2 separate regions of the Homo sapiens genome follow, and region 2 is linked to region 1. Evidence: fine-mapped expression QTL. A gene starts in region 1. The other region holds a variant in brackets. All regions are shown on one strand. Distances are between the middles of the regions.

The links. PIP is the estimated chance that this variant, and not a neighbour inherited with it, causes the effect.
Region 2: its variant is the best candidate, but not a certain one, in a credible set for the expression of NSF in monocytes after R848 (Quach 2016, PIP 0.83).

What each region holds. Positions count from the first base shown.
Region 1 is chr17:46,588,285-46,592,810 of GRCh38, reverse strand. NSF (N-ethylmaleimide sensitive factor, vesicle fusing ATPase) reads right to left here and starts at 2,142. Exons shown (of 21, transcript NM_006178.4): 1 at 2,024-2,142. The coding sequence starts at 2,035. It also overlaps a transcript of LRRC37A2 not described here.
Region 2 is chr17:46,759,341-46,763,561 of GRCh38, reverse strand. WNT3 (Wnt family member 3) reads left to right here. Exons shown (of 5, transcript NM_030753.5): 5 at 1-1,056. It also overlaps a transcript of LRRC37A2 not described here. Among named protein-coding and RNA genes, the nearest start is that of WNT3, 57 kb to the left of the region's middle. The variant C/A (reference allele first, on the strand shown) is at 2,242.

The DNA of each region.
Region 1 (4,526 bases):
ACAATGGTTTGACTTAACATTTTTCAACTTTACAATAGTGCAAAGGTGATAGGCATTCAGCAGAAACTGTACTTTGAAGACCTACACAACCATTCTGTTTTTCACTATCAGCACAGTAATAAATGACATGAGGTATTCAACATTTTATAATATAGGTTTATGTTAGATGATTTTGCCCAACTGTAGGCTAATGTAAGTGTTCTGTGCATGTGTAAGGAAGGCAGGCTAGGCTAAGCTATGATATTCGGTAGATCGGGTGTATTAAATGCATTTTCAACTTCTGATACTTTCAGCTTACAATGGGTTTATCGGAAGGTAGCCCCATCGTTAAGTCGAGGAGTATCTACACAAGTTAGGTGGGCTAAGATCCTGGGTTCGGAGTTGAAAAAGCTGCGTTTCGGGACCTTGATTTTAAATAAGCAGTTGGACATATTAACCTGAAACTTAAAGGGCAGGTCTGGACTGGGGGTAAAATATTGAGAATCACTGGCATATAGACAGTTGTAGCTATGGGCTTAGAAGAAATTGCCTGAGCGGGAAATTGAGAGTGAGAAGACGGCCTTTGAGGAATACCAGCAATGAATAACAAAGTAGAGGAGGGTGAGGCCGCAAAAGAGAGGTCTGAGTCAAACCAGGAGCGAGGCATTCCAGAACACATGTGAAGAGTGCTTTCCGTCAAGGAAGCCATGGTCAACAACGTCAAACGCTGCTGAGATATCAAATAAGATAAGGATTGAAAGGTATCAATTAAGTTGAGGGACAGGTTTCAGTGGGATGATGGGGCAGAAATCAGACTGCAGTAGGTTGAAGGGTGAGTAGGTGGTAAGCAAATGGAAGACAATAAATATAGACAACTCTATCAAATTTCCTGCTGTAAACTGGGACGGGAAAAGGTGACAGCTGTGGGGGTGGGGGAAGGGTTTAAGATAGAGAAGCTTGATTATGTTAAGAAGGAGCAGGTGAATATACAGATAGGGTCTGAAGTACTGGCAGAAGGACTAGCCTTAAAAGGAGAGGCCATGGGGAAAAGGAAGAGAAAGAAGCCAAACTAAATGACCTTTAAGATCCCTTCTTACTCTAGAATCTCATGACCTACAAGTCCCTTCAGATAGGGCATTTGCATATATGCATAAATCTATGCAAACTTATTCAAAAATTCTGTTATAAATAGATCAGTCAATCACATCTTTCACCCCCAATGACGCAGTTAATGTCCTCAGGTTTATGACCAGTGTAATCTCCGGGCAGGACTCATCCCTTGAGAGCTTTTAGCTCAAGGCAGACTGCAATACAGCACTCAACCAGCTCTCTCTCCTCGCCAAACCCATCCTACCCAACGATCCTAAAGGCTAAAGGAGGAAGTAAATTTAAAACCCTGAAACTACAGCATATCCTGCTGCATTCGAAGCGAGTGTCATCCATAAAAACAAAACGTGACACCCCAAATCCATCCTCACTCCAAGCTAAAGCCAATTCCTGCCTGACCCGACAGTTGACAGGTCCCCCAGATGGCCGGGCTTTAACACTAAAAGTCATTGGCACCCCCTCCTCTTTCCCAACGACCTTTAATTTGTGAAGAGCCAGACATGGGTTCCTGAAGATCCTTCCTACACCCCTTGCCCCGAATGCAGCAGAGGTGCTCCCGGCAGTTACTCCGGCGCCCCCTAATAAGCCCTCGCAAGGGGGTGCGGAAAGACCCCCAGAGCCCGTCAGAGGGGGCTTCGGCGACCGCGACCCTGCGGCTGTGTGGAGGACGAGGGAACAAGCCCCAAGGGATGGGAAGGGAGGATGACGGGAGGCGCAGCAGACGCGTGTAACGAGGGGTCATCTCCCCTCGAGGGGGGTGGAGTTGTTGAGGAGGGCTAATCCCCTGCCACCGCTCCCCTGCTACCCTCAAGTCCCGCTCTGGCCTCGCGCCCCATTGCTCGGATTCACTCCCACTCCTCTGGGGCCGCCTGGACCCCAGAGTGCCCGCGAGCCCGGCGCCCCTGCCTCAAGCCTGGGCTCCCAGACCGGCACTCACCCGGCCCGCCATCTTCGCGGACACGTCCGGCTCGGCGGCTGCAGCTCTGCGCTCGGCAAAGCCCGCCCCCGCCGCGCGCGCGCCCCCGCCGCCCGCCCTCGCGCAGGCGTGCAACCGCCGTGAGGACGCGCGCGTCCCTGGCCGCGTCCCCGGCGTCCTCGCTCCACAGGGCGCGCGCGCGGGCTCGGCGGCCGCCTGGGGTGCGCGGGGTGGGCAGAGCGGCGGCGCCATTTTGGCTGGAGCTGCGGGGCTGTGGTGGGTGACTCCGTTTCCAACGTGCGTGTCAGTCCGCCGGGGCCTGGAGGGCTGCGCCTGCGAGTCTCATCCCCCACTGGCGGTTCGCGCCGGAATTTGTCTCAAGGGCTTTAATGCTTCGGATCACTTATCCCTTTGCCAGCTGCTGTTCGCCCTCGAATGTCCATTTTGGTCTGTGCTTCCACACTCTCTTTAAACATGGTCTTGCTGATGAGAGCGCCCGGCGCGTTCCCTGGCTTCCCCCAAAAAAGATCAGCTCCGAGGAGTTGGTTCTGAGTTCAAATTCTCCATGAATTTTCTCACTTTTCTTTGTAGGCGTACTTGTTTTCCTAGTTGCTGGAATTGTCATCGTTGGCAGTTTTATTTATGTGTAGCCTGGAAAACTCAGTATTTTCAGATTTGAAAGTGAATTGTGATTATTTTTATACATTATTTTTATTAAATATTTGTCTTTATTTAATAAAGGCAACTTGCATCTTCGACCAACCTTTTCATTCCCCAGTGTTGTTTCATTTTAGACAATATATATGGTAGAATCTGAATAAAATATGCCCTAAATTGAGCCTTGTTGAACCTCAATGTTTCCACCATACCATTTCTCCACTGGAATCTCAGAATATCTAACTGCAAGCACGCTGAGAGGAGAAAGATTCTGCCGAATGGATTCCCTGATGCTTTTATTTACCCCACTATCATATCTCTCTTCATATTTGCACAAGACAATAGGGAATGATAGGATTTGTTCGCTTTCATTTCTCACAATTAGAATAAATCGGGGTTTTTTTCCCAACATGAGGAAAGAAGGGAAATAACTAGAAGAGCTGAGCATGCATAGTGATTTAAATTTGAGAACTAATAAAATCAGACAGTGACCTGAAGATGAACTAGGGACAGAAGAAAAAATTCATGCCAGCCAGGCGCGGTGGCTCATGCCTGTAATCCAAGCACTTTGGGTGGATCACCTAAGGTCAGGAGTTCCAGACCGGCCTGGCCAATATAGTGAAACCCCGTCTCTACTAAAAATACAAAAATTAGCCGGGCGTGGTGGCGGGCGCCTGTGATCTCAGCTACTCAGGAGGCTGAGGTGGGAGAATCGCTTGAACCCCGGAGGCAGAGGTTGAAGTGAGTTGAGATTGCGAGGCTGGGCAACAGAGCGAGACTCCGTCTAAAAAAAAAAAAAAAAAAAAAAAAATTCACGCCTATTTCATTAAGTCTCACACTGAACCTGAGGACCAGGGTGCTTGGTTGACCAAATCAGATGTTAGCTAAATCATGGGTGGGTCGGAGAGGTTATCAGGAAAGATAGGAAACTAGTTGAGTTCTGACATACTAACGTGCAGAAGCTACTAACTTACAAAAACAAATATTAGAATGGCTTGGGGAGTCCAAAGGGTTAGGTTCTTTTCTTTGTCCCTATCTACCCATCACCTGTGTACCTTCATCTCTCTGAGCCCAGTTTCCTTATTTGTTTTTGTTTGTTTGTTTTTGAGACGCAGTCTTACTCTGTCACCCAGGCTGGAGCACAGTGGCATGATCTCGGCTCACTGCAACCTCCGCCTCCCGGGTTCTAGCTATTCTCCTGTCTCAGCCTCCCAAGTCGCTGGTATTACAGGCGCCTGCCACCACACCCAGCTAATTTTTGTATTTTTAGTAGAGACAGGGTTTTGCCATGTTGTCCAGGCTGGTCTCGAACTCTTGACCTCAGGTGATCCACTGGCCTTGTCCTCCCAAAGTGCTGGGATTACAGAAGTGAGCCACCACGCCTGGCCTAGTTTCCTTATTTGTACAGTGAGAGGTATAATTAAATAAGCTTAACAGTTGTATCCTTTTTTTTTTTTTTGACACCTTGACTTTGAACCTAGAATCAAAGAGATTTTGTCCAAATAATTACCAGATCCAGAAGATGACATTGGTTCTCAGTCCAATAATCTGACATTATTTTCAAGGTTGGAAAATAATGCAAACATGTTTCTCCCTATCACTGGTTAGTTTGTCTTGTTTTACTAGATAAGCTAGATTGCAAGTACAAATGTCTTCAATTTCTCCAACAAGGAAGAATATTTATCATCTTGGAAGGATATGCCTGCTGGAAAGTTTCCAGTGTATCAGCTAATGTGCATATCTACCCATTATAAGAGGCCCTCTGTGCCCTCTCAAAGCCCTCTGTGCCTTCTCACAAGTAGTAAAAATTAAATAGAATCATTTGCACAGCCCTGCAGGGCCTGCCAAATAAATTGCAAGCAAAGAT
Region 2 (4,221 bases), 170 kb before region 1:
CATCCCTTTGCTTCCTCTCCAATACGGACCCATCTTACTGTGTCCTTTCCTCTCTGGGGCCAATGTGAGTAAACACAGACACAGAGTTCTTTCCCCCAGCTCTTCCTCCCTCACCTGCATGCTGAGATAGCTTCCATCCATGCAGTTCCCAAGGATCTGGATTAGAAGTTCAAAGGGGAACCAGCAGTCACCTACTCCCTTAGGTGAAGCATCTCACGGCTGAGTTCTCCCTGAGGCATACTGGTCCAGCTGAGCGTCCTAGAGAAAGCTAGCAAAAGGGAGGCACATGGATTTCACAGTATGAATTGGTTCAACAACTGTCTTAGGGAGAATCAGAAAGAAGAGATGCAGCAGGGGAATGAGCAGAACAAAGATTTTTCTTTCTCCCCCTTCTCTCTGGGGTCTACCTAACCCTGACCTAAAATACCAGGGCAGCGATCTCCCAGCTGGTGCAGGTGGGCTTGCCAAGATGGTCGTCCAGGAGCCCGCCTTCACTTCTAAATCTGCTGGCCACAAGCCCTGCTAAAGATACACATCTCACCCCCTCCGCCAAGTCTGAAATGCCCCTCCCCATCTCACCTTAGACTGAAAAGTTTTAAATCATGTCAACTGGATAATACTTGCTTTATGTGAGAATACTTCAGCAGAATGGATACGAATTTTCAAAACAATCTTTTCATATCTATGTATTCTATATTAAAAGTGATAAAGTCATGTTTCTGGGGCGTATTCAAGTAGCTGACAAGTAATTATTTAATAATAGTACATGAGTGCATTGTAATGATTCTCGCCGTAGTCAGGTAATAGTATCCAACCGAAATTTCCTACCAACCTGCTGTATCCAAAGTTTTGTAAAAAGTTGTAGAAGTTGTTGATCTTTTTGATTTTATATTCAAAAAGTCTCTTTTTATAAATATTATTTATTATACAATGTATATACCTTTGAGTTAACTAAGATTATATATTATATAAATATATATATATTTGGAGAAAATATATTTCATCATGCAGTTTTTTTCTGTTAAGTCATTAAAGAGAAGGTAAACAAACCTAAAATGGATACATTGTACACTGTGTGGAGTTTCCAGATTAATGCTCAGGAGGTCAAGGATACGAGATTCTGAACATGGTGGCCTCAGCTAATTAAATGACCAAGTGAAGGTTATTTCCTCTGTTTTCTAAGCAAGATCATCAGAGATGTCACGGACAGTGGGTCTGATACACCACAGTACATTTTTAAAGGCTTCTTTTGTTCTAAGTTAACTTCTAACAATGAATTTCCAGTTTTAGAAAACAACAACTTGTGTACTAATTCATTTCACAGACTCAAGTATTTTCAATGTATAAATTAATGTCACAGGCACTCCTAAAAGATGTGGCCCAAGGCCAGCAGACCGCAGGGGTGGCCACTGCCTTAATCCCCTCCTCACCACGTTTTCAACTCCATTTAATGGGAAAATAGGATTTTCTCTATTGAAAATGAAACTTGACTGAAAATTGTCTGTCCCCTGCTAGCTCCACTGTGAGAGCTAAGCCGTAGAGGGAGGTAGGCTGGTCTACAAGAAGAAAGCGTGTGCCCTGGGCTGTGGGCTGTCTGGAACAATTGTCATTTGAAGTTGGGTTTGGGTTTGGGTAGAAAGGGCCTGCCAGTGGGCATGCTCTGGGGATGGGCACCCTCTCAGATCGCCACTTCACAGGACCCACTGGAAGCTCACAGGTTATGCCTTCTCAACAATGAGATGCCACAAGTTGGTTTTATGACAACAGACAATCCTTTAGTTTTCAGACCTACCCATAAAATGTCACCTTTGGTTTATTCAGCACATTATTTCAGAGAATAACAAAAATGTTTTTTCTTTTTATTTCTCCTGACCTACCTCATTTAGGAACAAATCTTACCTCACTACGAAGAGAAATAATGAGAACAGGCTGGGTGGGGTGGCTCAGACCTGTAATCCCAGCACTTTGGGAGGCCGAGGTGGGTGGATCACTTGAGGTCAGGAGTTCGAGACCAGCTTGGCCAACATGGTGAAAGCCCGTTTTTACTAAAAATACAAAAATTAGCAGCTGGGCATGGTGGTGCATGCCTGTAGTCCCAGCTACTTGAGAGGCTGAGGCAGGAGAATCACTTGAACCTGGGAGGCGGAGGTTGCAATGAGCTGAGATCGCACCACTGTACTCCAGCCTGGGTGACAAGGCGAGACTCCATCTCAAAAAAAAAAAAAAACAAACAAAAAAAAA[C/A]CAGGAAAATAAAGCCATGAGCCGCCTATGGTGGAGGCGGGCTGCTCTGCGCTGTATTCAGACCTGTGACCTGAGGTTAGGAATAGCCACCAGAAGTTGATGCACTCTGTTTTGTCCATGATGTGTCTTTAGCCCCTGAAAAGCTGAAACCACAAAAACTGTTACACTTCAGCCATACAACGAATCGGACACGTACAGGATACAGATCTCCTCTACATCTTACAGTCTGGTCATTTTTATTTCATTTCGACTTTTTATTTTTCTTTTGCATAAAGCTAATGCAGGTTGACTACACCTTTTCTGAAATGCTTGGGACCAGAAATATTTCAGACTTTGGAAGATTTGCATATATACAATGAGGTATCTTGGGGATGGGACCCAAGTCTAAACACGAAATTCATTGATTTCATATGCACCTTACACACATAGCCTGAAGGTAATTTTATGAAATTTTTAAATAATTTTGTGCATGAAACAGTTTAGACTGCATTTTGAATTTTGATTGCCACCTGTCACACAAGGTCAGGTGTGGAATTTTCCACTTGTGGCATCCTGTCGGTGCTGAAAAGTTTTAGATTTTAGAGCATTTCAGATTTTGGATTTTTAGATTAGGGATGCTCGACTGAACTTATCTATCCCAGAATTCTAGGTACTTTTTCCTTTTTTTTTCTTTTTTTTTTTTTTTTTGAGATAGGGTCTTCCTCTGTTGCCCAGGCTGGAGTACAGTGGTGTGATCATGGCTCACTGCAGCCTTGACCTCCTGGGCTCAAGTGACCTCCTACCTCAGGCTCCCGTGTAGCTGGGACCATAGGCATGTGTCACCATGCCCAGCTAATTTTTTAATTTTTTTTTTTTAGAGATGAGGTCTTGCTATGTTGCTCAGGCTGGTCTTGAACTCCTAGCCTCAAATGATCTCCCACCTCAGCCTCTCAGCATTGGGACTACAGGCATGAGCCACCCTGCCTGGCCAGTACTTTTTCAATCAATAAGATTGCCAAATATTTAAATGGTCCCTATTCATACTAATGAAGACCATTTGTAATCGTATGATTAGTTTTTAATTTTTAAGAGACAAGTGTCTATGTCACTCAGGAGTACAGTGGCATGATCATGGCTCAACACAGCCTTGACCCCCTGGGCTCAAATGATCCTCCTCAGCCTCCCAAGTAACTAGGACTCAGGCGCACTCTACTATGGTAATTAAAAATAAAATCTTTTGTAGAGATGGGGTCTTGCTGTGTTGCCCACTGGTCTCAAACTCCTGGGTTCAGGGGGTCCTCCCACTTCAGCCTCCCAAAGTGTTGGGATTACTGGGTGAGCCATCACACCCTGCCCAGTCTTATTTGATGGTTAAGGAGAATACAGTTGATAGCTGTGCTTGAACATGTAGTTTCTCCTTATGTATAAGTACTTACAAACGTCTAAACACAAGAGGACGTTGTTTAAAAATCTGAAAGAGACGACATAATTAGAAGATATCTTTCAAAGCAATATTATTTTATGAAGAAAGAAGGGAAGGAAAGCATGTGAGACAGTTCAAGGATGAGGGGATGAGGTACAAAGAAAGGTGGAAGGAAAGAAGGTAGGGAAAAAGAAAAGCAAGGAAACATGATGGCGACATGATTCTTGGTGTTACCTAATGCCGTCTCCCCTGGTGGCCCTGGGCATAGGGACATGTTCTTGTGTGTGTGGCTGGTCTGCACACTCGAGTGAAGTCAGTGCAGCTACGCATTGCTGCTACACTGCCACTGTTTCTCCTAGTTTAATAGAGAACCTTCTAGGAGGCAAAAATTTCTTACCATTAATCTTATACTCCCAAAATAGTGAGACAGAAGTTGCATGGCGTCTACGCTGGGAAAATTTCAAACATGATCCCTCCTTGGATATTTTGTCTTCACCCACTTGGGATGCTTGCCAATCACAGGCGCTATCTCCCGCATCTTTATGCCATGGTGCCCGTCCAGCACACACCCTTGTGGG